Linked DNA regions of Homo sapiens: region 1 is linked to region 2. A link means that fine-mapping ties the variant in region 2 to the expression of a gene that starts in the linked region. Tissue or cell type: gastroesophageal junction. Region 2 holds a variant in brackets; the other region holds the start of a gene. All regions are shown on one strand. Distances are from middle to middle. Region 1 holds the start of VPS13A (vacuolar protein sorting 13 homolog A). Region 2 overlaps VPS13A (vacuolar protein sorting 13 homolog A).

Region 1 (2,919 bases), 44 kb after region 2:
AAGTGTGTGCACAGACAAGAATAAATTACTTTAAATATATATTTAAACACACACACTTCACACACAAAATTAACCCTCACTTTGGCCTGGGAAATTCATTTCACAAAGGAGTCTAATTTCTAGCGGGTGTTTAAAATAAACAAGCGCATAATGCAAAAACAGATGGAAACACTAAAAATGAGGCTCTCACTAAGGCAGAATACCACACTAAACGGACACAAGGAAAGCTCGGTCCTTCACCACCTAGGCAGCGTAGGGCCCTGTTCAGCCCGGTCTTTTGCAGGTCTGAGACGTTGCACCGCACGCCCTGGTTTTTCTTTAAAATTCGGCAATTCACTCTGACCCACATATCCTAAAGTCTTGAAAATGTTACACATTCCTAGGTCAGGCTGTTAACTGCAACCACACAAGCAACTGTTTGAGTTACTTTGCACTTGAGTTTCCTTTTTGTTATCCGCCGAACCCAGGCGAGAGAGAGCCGGCGTCCGGGTCCTAGGGCCGGAAGGGGGAGAGCAGAAAGCACCACGGGTGAAGCCAGGAATTGAGGCTGGGGAAGCAAGGAAGCGGGCGTCCCCGGTCACAGCGCCCTGCCTTCACGTGCGAGGCAGCATGCAACACGCGGGGGATTTCTGGGGCCTTCGTCATAAACCCAGGGGGGCAAAGGACAGGGATGGGACCCAGCCCAGGAAGGCGTCGTCTCGCCTCCTCGCCCCGCGCGGCTAAAGCCGGACCGTGCGGGGCCAGGGGTAGAGAACGGCCCCTCGCCGGGACTTGAACGCCAGACCCACGGAGCCCACGGCAAGTCCGCTCCGCTCGGAAAATATAGACCTTTTCATCCCGCACTCATGACCCTCTCCTTTCCCCCAAAATATAAACAACTCGAGGGCGGAGGCCAGGGAACTGCCGCCCGGCTTTACGTAACTTGACCCACAGGCGGGCGGCGGCAGGTGGCTGCACCCGGCGAGCAAGGTGCTCGAAGCCCCGAGAACGCAGGACGCCGCTCGGGCAGCGAGACGGCCGGGAAGCACGAGAGGCCGGGGAGCGGCGGCGGCGGCCTCCTTACCTTTCCAGATGCCCAGAGAGAGCTGGGACGTGTCCAAGTCCACCACATAGTCCCCCAAGAACCGGTTCAACACGTCCACGACCACCGACTCGAAAACCATGTTCCTCAGCCGTGGTGGGCACGGCAGCCGGCCCGTGCGCTCCTCCTCCCGCCGCCTTCCCCACGCCCCTCCCTCGAGGTAATTCGGTTCACCGGCTCCGGGGCGGCTTCAGCTGCGGCGCCCCCGCTGGCCCAACGCGCAGCCCTAGCGAGCCCAGCGAGAGACGGAGGCGGTCGCTCTCACGACGCGTGCGCAAGTCTGCGCGCGGCTGGAGGCGGAGCGCGGCGCAGACCTGGGCGCGCAGCCCTGAGAGGGAGGAAAGGCGGCTGCGCGGCCGCGGCTCTGGAGGGTGCCCTTTTCGCGCCGAGCCCGGCTCCTCTTTCCTGTCGGCCCCGCCTCCTCCCCATCGCCTGGCAACGGGACACCGGTCTGGAGCTACCGGATTTTTTCCGACCCCGCCCCCTCCTGCAGATCAGCGTCCCCAGCGGCCCCCCAGGGCGGGGCGGTTACGCCCGACGGGAACGCCCCTCCCCCTAGAAGGTGGTGGCCGCTTCCACGCGTATGACAGGGCTCGCCCCTGAGTAAGGGTGGGCGGATCCCAGCCCCGTCGCCAGAAGCTTCAAGGGGGCTGTCCCAGGGAGCATCTCCCCTCATCATTACAGGGTGGGAGGGTCCAGCCAGCCTGGGTGTCTTGGTGCCTGTAACCTCCCCGCCTGGTCCTCCGACCGCCTGGCTCTCAGGAGGAGTTAACTTCCTGCTGCGAGTCGAGGATGGAGTTACATAGTCCCTGCCCTGCATCTGAGATGAGCACCCATTTTTGGTCAAGTCATTTATACGGAGCTGTCTTTCATTCCAAAGAGTAACACGCTTCCCTGCAGATAAGAGTTGGAGTCAGCCGGTCTGGAAACTGCTGAACACCCTCCAAGAAATACTGGGAGTGCTGGACCCTTGACCCCTATGCCTCCACCGAACCACTGACCTAAAATAAATTACAATTACAGATCTTTCGACCTGTTTGGTCTTACTTAGAAGTAATCCCAAAGGCCTGAGGTCACAGAGATGCTAAATGTGAGGTTTAGAGAACTGTAATTAATCATCTGCAGGACCGAAAAAGTGTACATTGAGCGTTTTCTCTTTACACGTTAAATGAATAATGATGGATTTCTATTAATTCCTGTGTCATTTTACTACTTTTTGTGCATAGTCACCGACTTTTCAAAATTAAATGTTTAGGGTGTGCCTTTGCAAGTAGAATGCCTGACAAAAACTGTAAGTTTTTACCTGAGTTTATGAATGTTTTTCATATAATTTTATATTTGAAGGACCTTTATGAGGTCTCCAACCTCCTAGTCTTAAATATAATGAAGCTGAAGTGTTAGGGATGTGTGCAAGGTCATACAACCAATGTTCTGTGGAAGAACTGGAACTTGGCCCTTCTGATTGGCTACCACCCCACCTGCTTCTCTCTCATTCAGCTAACAGTCTGCTTCAGAATACCTGCACGGAGAAACGAATAGAGGCTAAAATGCCTAGGAAGGGGAAGAGCTCTACATAATGAGGCATTTTGCCATTGCACTATTAATAAGAAGCCAGATACACAGTAGCTGCAAAATTCCGCTGTTATATCTAGCGCTGCAAATTCAAAGTTACAAGAATTTCCAGAACTCCAAAAATCCATCTTAAGTATCTTGCAAACGTTTTCATATTAGTTTTCTACGATCTAGGAAAATTTTGTGGAAGTGAGGAAGGGGAAGGGATGTTGCTGAAAAGTTAGAGGTATAAGCATAAAGCAATGAAAAAAAATTCTGCTGAGGAA
Region 2 (2,919 bases):
TGTGATTGGCCAAAACTTGGTGATTGGCACAAGAGTAGACTAGAGTCTGTTTATACTTCCATTTAAGCTATAGTTTATGGCGTACAAAGAAACCTTTTGGCCAAACTTAAAATATGTAAGGAGGCAGCTTTAGTCTAAACTTAATTTAACAGCTGTCTTATATGGATGCAGTTTGTGGCACCCCAAAACAGTTACAACAGTAACAGCAAAGATCACTGATCATAGATCATCATAACAGATATAATAATAATGAAACAGTTTCAAATATTGTGGGAATTACCAAAATGTGACACATAGACAGGAATAAATGCTATTGGAAAAATGGTGCCGACAGATTTGCTAGACACAGTGTTGCCACAAACCTTCAATTTGTAAAAAACACAATGTCTGCAAAGCACAATAAAGTGAAGTATGCCTGTATTTCAAGTAGACCCAGATACACTTAAAACTTGTTTTTAATACTTAACACTTTTCATAGTTGTCATAGCTATTGAAATAAGCTGAGATTAGCTAAATCTTTCATCACAGCTATCTTGACATACCCATAATTACTTTTGAGAATTTCATGATCAAACTATGTTTCCCCCAAGAGAAGTAACTACAACCCATTATTATTTCAGAATAACTTATTCAGGGTTCTCCTATCCAGACTTGGAGGACTCAGGTTATGATTCAAGACTAAGACAACCTGAACCCATCCCCCAAAGACTCTAAGCCCAGGCATTCCTAACAGCCCTAGGTCTTCAGAAAGTCTCCCACATTGAAAATAAAAGTAAAAGTCAATCTAATCTATAAATTAGAAATTCATTCTGGATTCAGAATGTTTACATTAACTTCAAGAGACTAACTCCCCTTAATCTCTCTAAGCTATAGTTCATCAATTTGTAAAAGAGTCCCTCTTGAAATATGTCATAATGCTAAAAGACAAGATTAATACAAAAATAATATCTCAAGATAGATAATTAAATGTAAAACTACTGGTAGAGACTAGAGATACCACAAAAATTAAGAGAAAAAGGGCTCTGTATAAGCAGAAAATTCAGAGACATTCATGCAAGCACTAAGACTTAAGTAGAACTTCAGGGATGAGTAGAATTGAGTAGGTAGAGAGATAAAGGCAGGTAGCATTTATGAGCATAGGCGTGGCTAAAAGAATGAGCATTAAATATACAGAGTACAGGAAACATTAAATTAGTGCATGGTCAGATTGTAACATAGGGAAAATGTAGTGGTGACACATAAAAGGCTTTGAAACCAACACAGAGAAGTTGGAATCAATGTAGCAAACACTATTTAGACTTTTGAGGTTAAAAATGACATAATCATACTATTTGCATGAACCCAAATTCCTTCCGATTGAGAATAATCTCGAATTTCAAAAGCTCACTGGAGAATTTCAACAAATCTTGTATTATTCAGCTGAAGTTAAGAACAGAAG[C/T]ACAAAAAAGTCTAAGTAAAAGAGATGAAAAGGTCAATAAAAATTGGAATGAAAGGTAGGGAGTATCAGTCACTGAAGACCAATAAGGAGCTATGTAGTATAAAACACTCAACAATTTCATTTTAAATGCTAACCTCCAAAGACACGAGAAGTTCACCAGGTGGCTTCTTACTTGTTAACTTTTTTTTATACAGTTCTTTATATTGCTTCACTTTTTGCCTATGTTTTCTAATATGCTTCCATGACCACATCCATAACCTGGGGCAAACATTTACTTCAAGAACGCCATGTATAGCATAAGCCCACCTAGTTAAAAAAAGAAAAACATTTAACACCCTCAAATCAACAGTATGAAACATTACTGACATTGCTTCTACTCTAACAACATACATAACTATAATACAAAGATTAGGAAAATGATATATTATCTGAGTACTTCCTTTTTACCCAACTCCATTTGCATTAATAATCCATTCAATATTAATCTTTCCTCTTTCTTAAGTGAAAATAAGCAAAATCACTCCATTTTGTTAAATATAGTTCTACACAAGAACTGTTAAGGCATTAATTGGCAAATAACATTTAGTCATCTGAATAATAACTGAAATAGTCAACTGAAAGAGTAATTGTAACTTCTAGAAACTAGGGAATAGCTTAAAAACTGGAATAACAAGACTTTTGAGTTTTAAAATGGGATTATCCTGCATAGACTCCGTAACATTTTTAGCTTTTAAAATACAGGTTTAATAATATTGGTTCAGTGTATCTGATAGGGAAGCTGAGGTGGGGGTTGGGGAGAGACAATGCAAGAAAACAAACCAGGATTTGTTTTTGTAATAATTCTAAATATACTGACCCGTCCATAGTAAATGAAAACTATGGTATTCGAGCATCTCGAGTTGTAAACTGTGTTAGCAAGAATCCCTTAAATCAGTTTCATTAACTCAATAAGCTAAAGCAGCTACATATATTTCTAGCTATAAATCAATTATGGTTTGTATCAGACCTTAAAAATGGTATATCTTAAAGATTATTCTTGAAGTCGAGAAATTTATTTTTATGTTGTATTTTTAAAATCTAAAAAAAAAAAAAAATCAAGGCATTTACCATTCTCTGGCATGGTGGTGAAGAGGCACATCAGGTTTGAACTTCCTATATGGCAGATTTTGTGCCATCATATCAACTGATTCAAGAAGCTCCATAATACTGAAATACTAAAGAATGGAAAATTAAAGCTCTTAAATGTATCACATTTTTTTGTTCAATTGCTGAAGATAAAAGTTACATTACTGACTTTTTAGGGAAATGCTACCATATAACATCATGAATTTTAGTGAAACATTTAAAATCTTAGTTTTGCTTTTATCAAACAATAATTCACAATTGAAAATTATATTAAAGAAAATCACCTGTGGTTTATTAAATTCAATTGCTATGTTATGTAACTCAATTTCCAAGTTTATTTTGGGGGCAGAAAAGTC

What was found. PIP is the estimated chance that this variant, and not a neighbour inherited with it, causes the effect.
Region 1: it holds the start of VPS13A, and the variant in region 2 is fine-mapped to the expression of VPS13A in gastroesophageal junction (GTEx, PIP above 0.99). The same link has a PIP of 0.9 or more in esophagus muscle and prostate.

Annotation. Positions count from the first base shown.
Region 1 is chr9:77,175,949-77,178,867 of GRCh38, reverse strand. It overlaps VPS13A (vacuolar protein sorting 13 homolog A), which reads right to left and starts at 1,334. Exons shown (of 72, transcript NM_033305.3): 1 at 1,064-1,334. The coding sequence starts at 1,163. VPS13A-AS1 (VPS13A antisense RNA 1) reads left to right here and starts at 951. Exons shown (of 2, transcript NR_026668.2): 1 at 951-1,241; 2 at 1,962-2,112. RefSeq lists silencers at 169-338, 1,321-1,615, 1,377-1,706 and an enhancer at 1,321-1,615.
Region 2 is chr9:77,220,010-77,222,928 of GRCh38, reverse strand. VPS13A (vacuolar protein sorting 13 homolog A) reads right to left here. Exons shown (of 72, transcript NM_033305.3): 11 at 2,848-2,919; 12 at 2,546-2,652; 13 at 1,573-1,744. Among named protein-coding and RNA genes, the nearest start is that of VPS13A-AS1, 44 kb to the right of the region's middle. The variant C/T (reference allele first, on the strand shown) is at 1,439.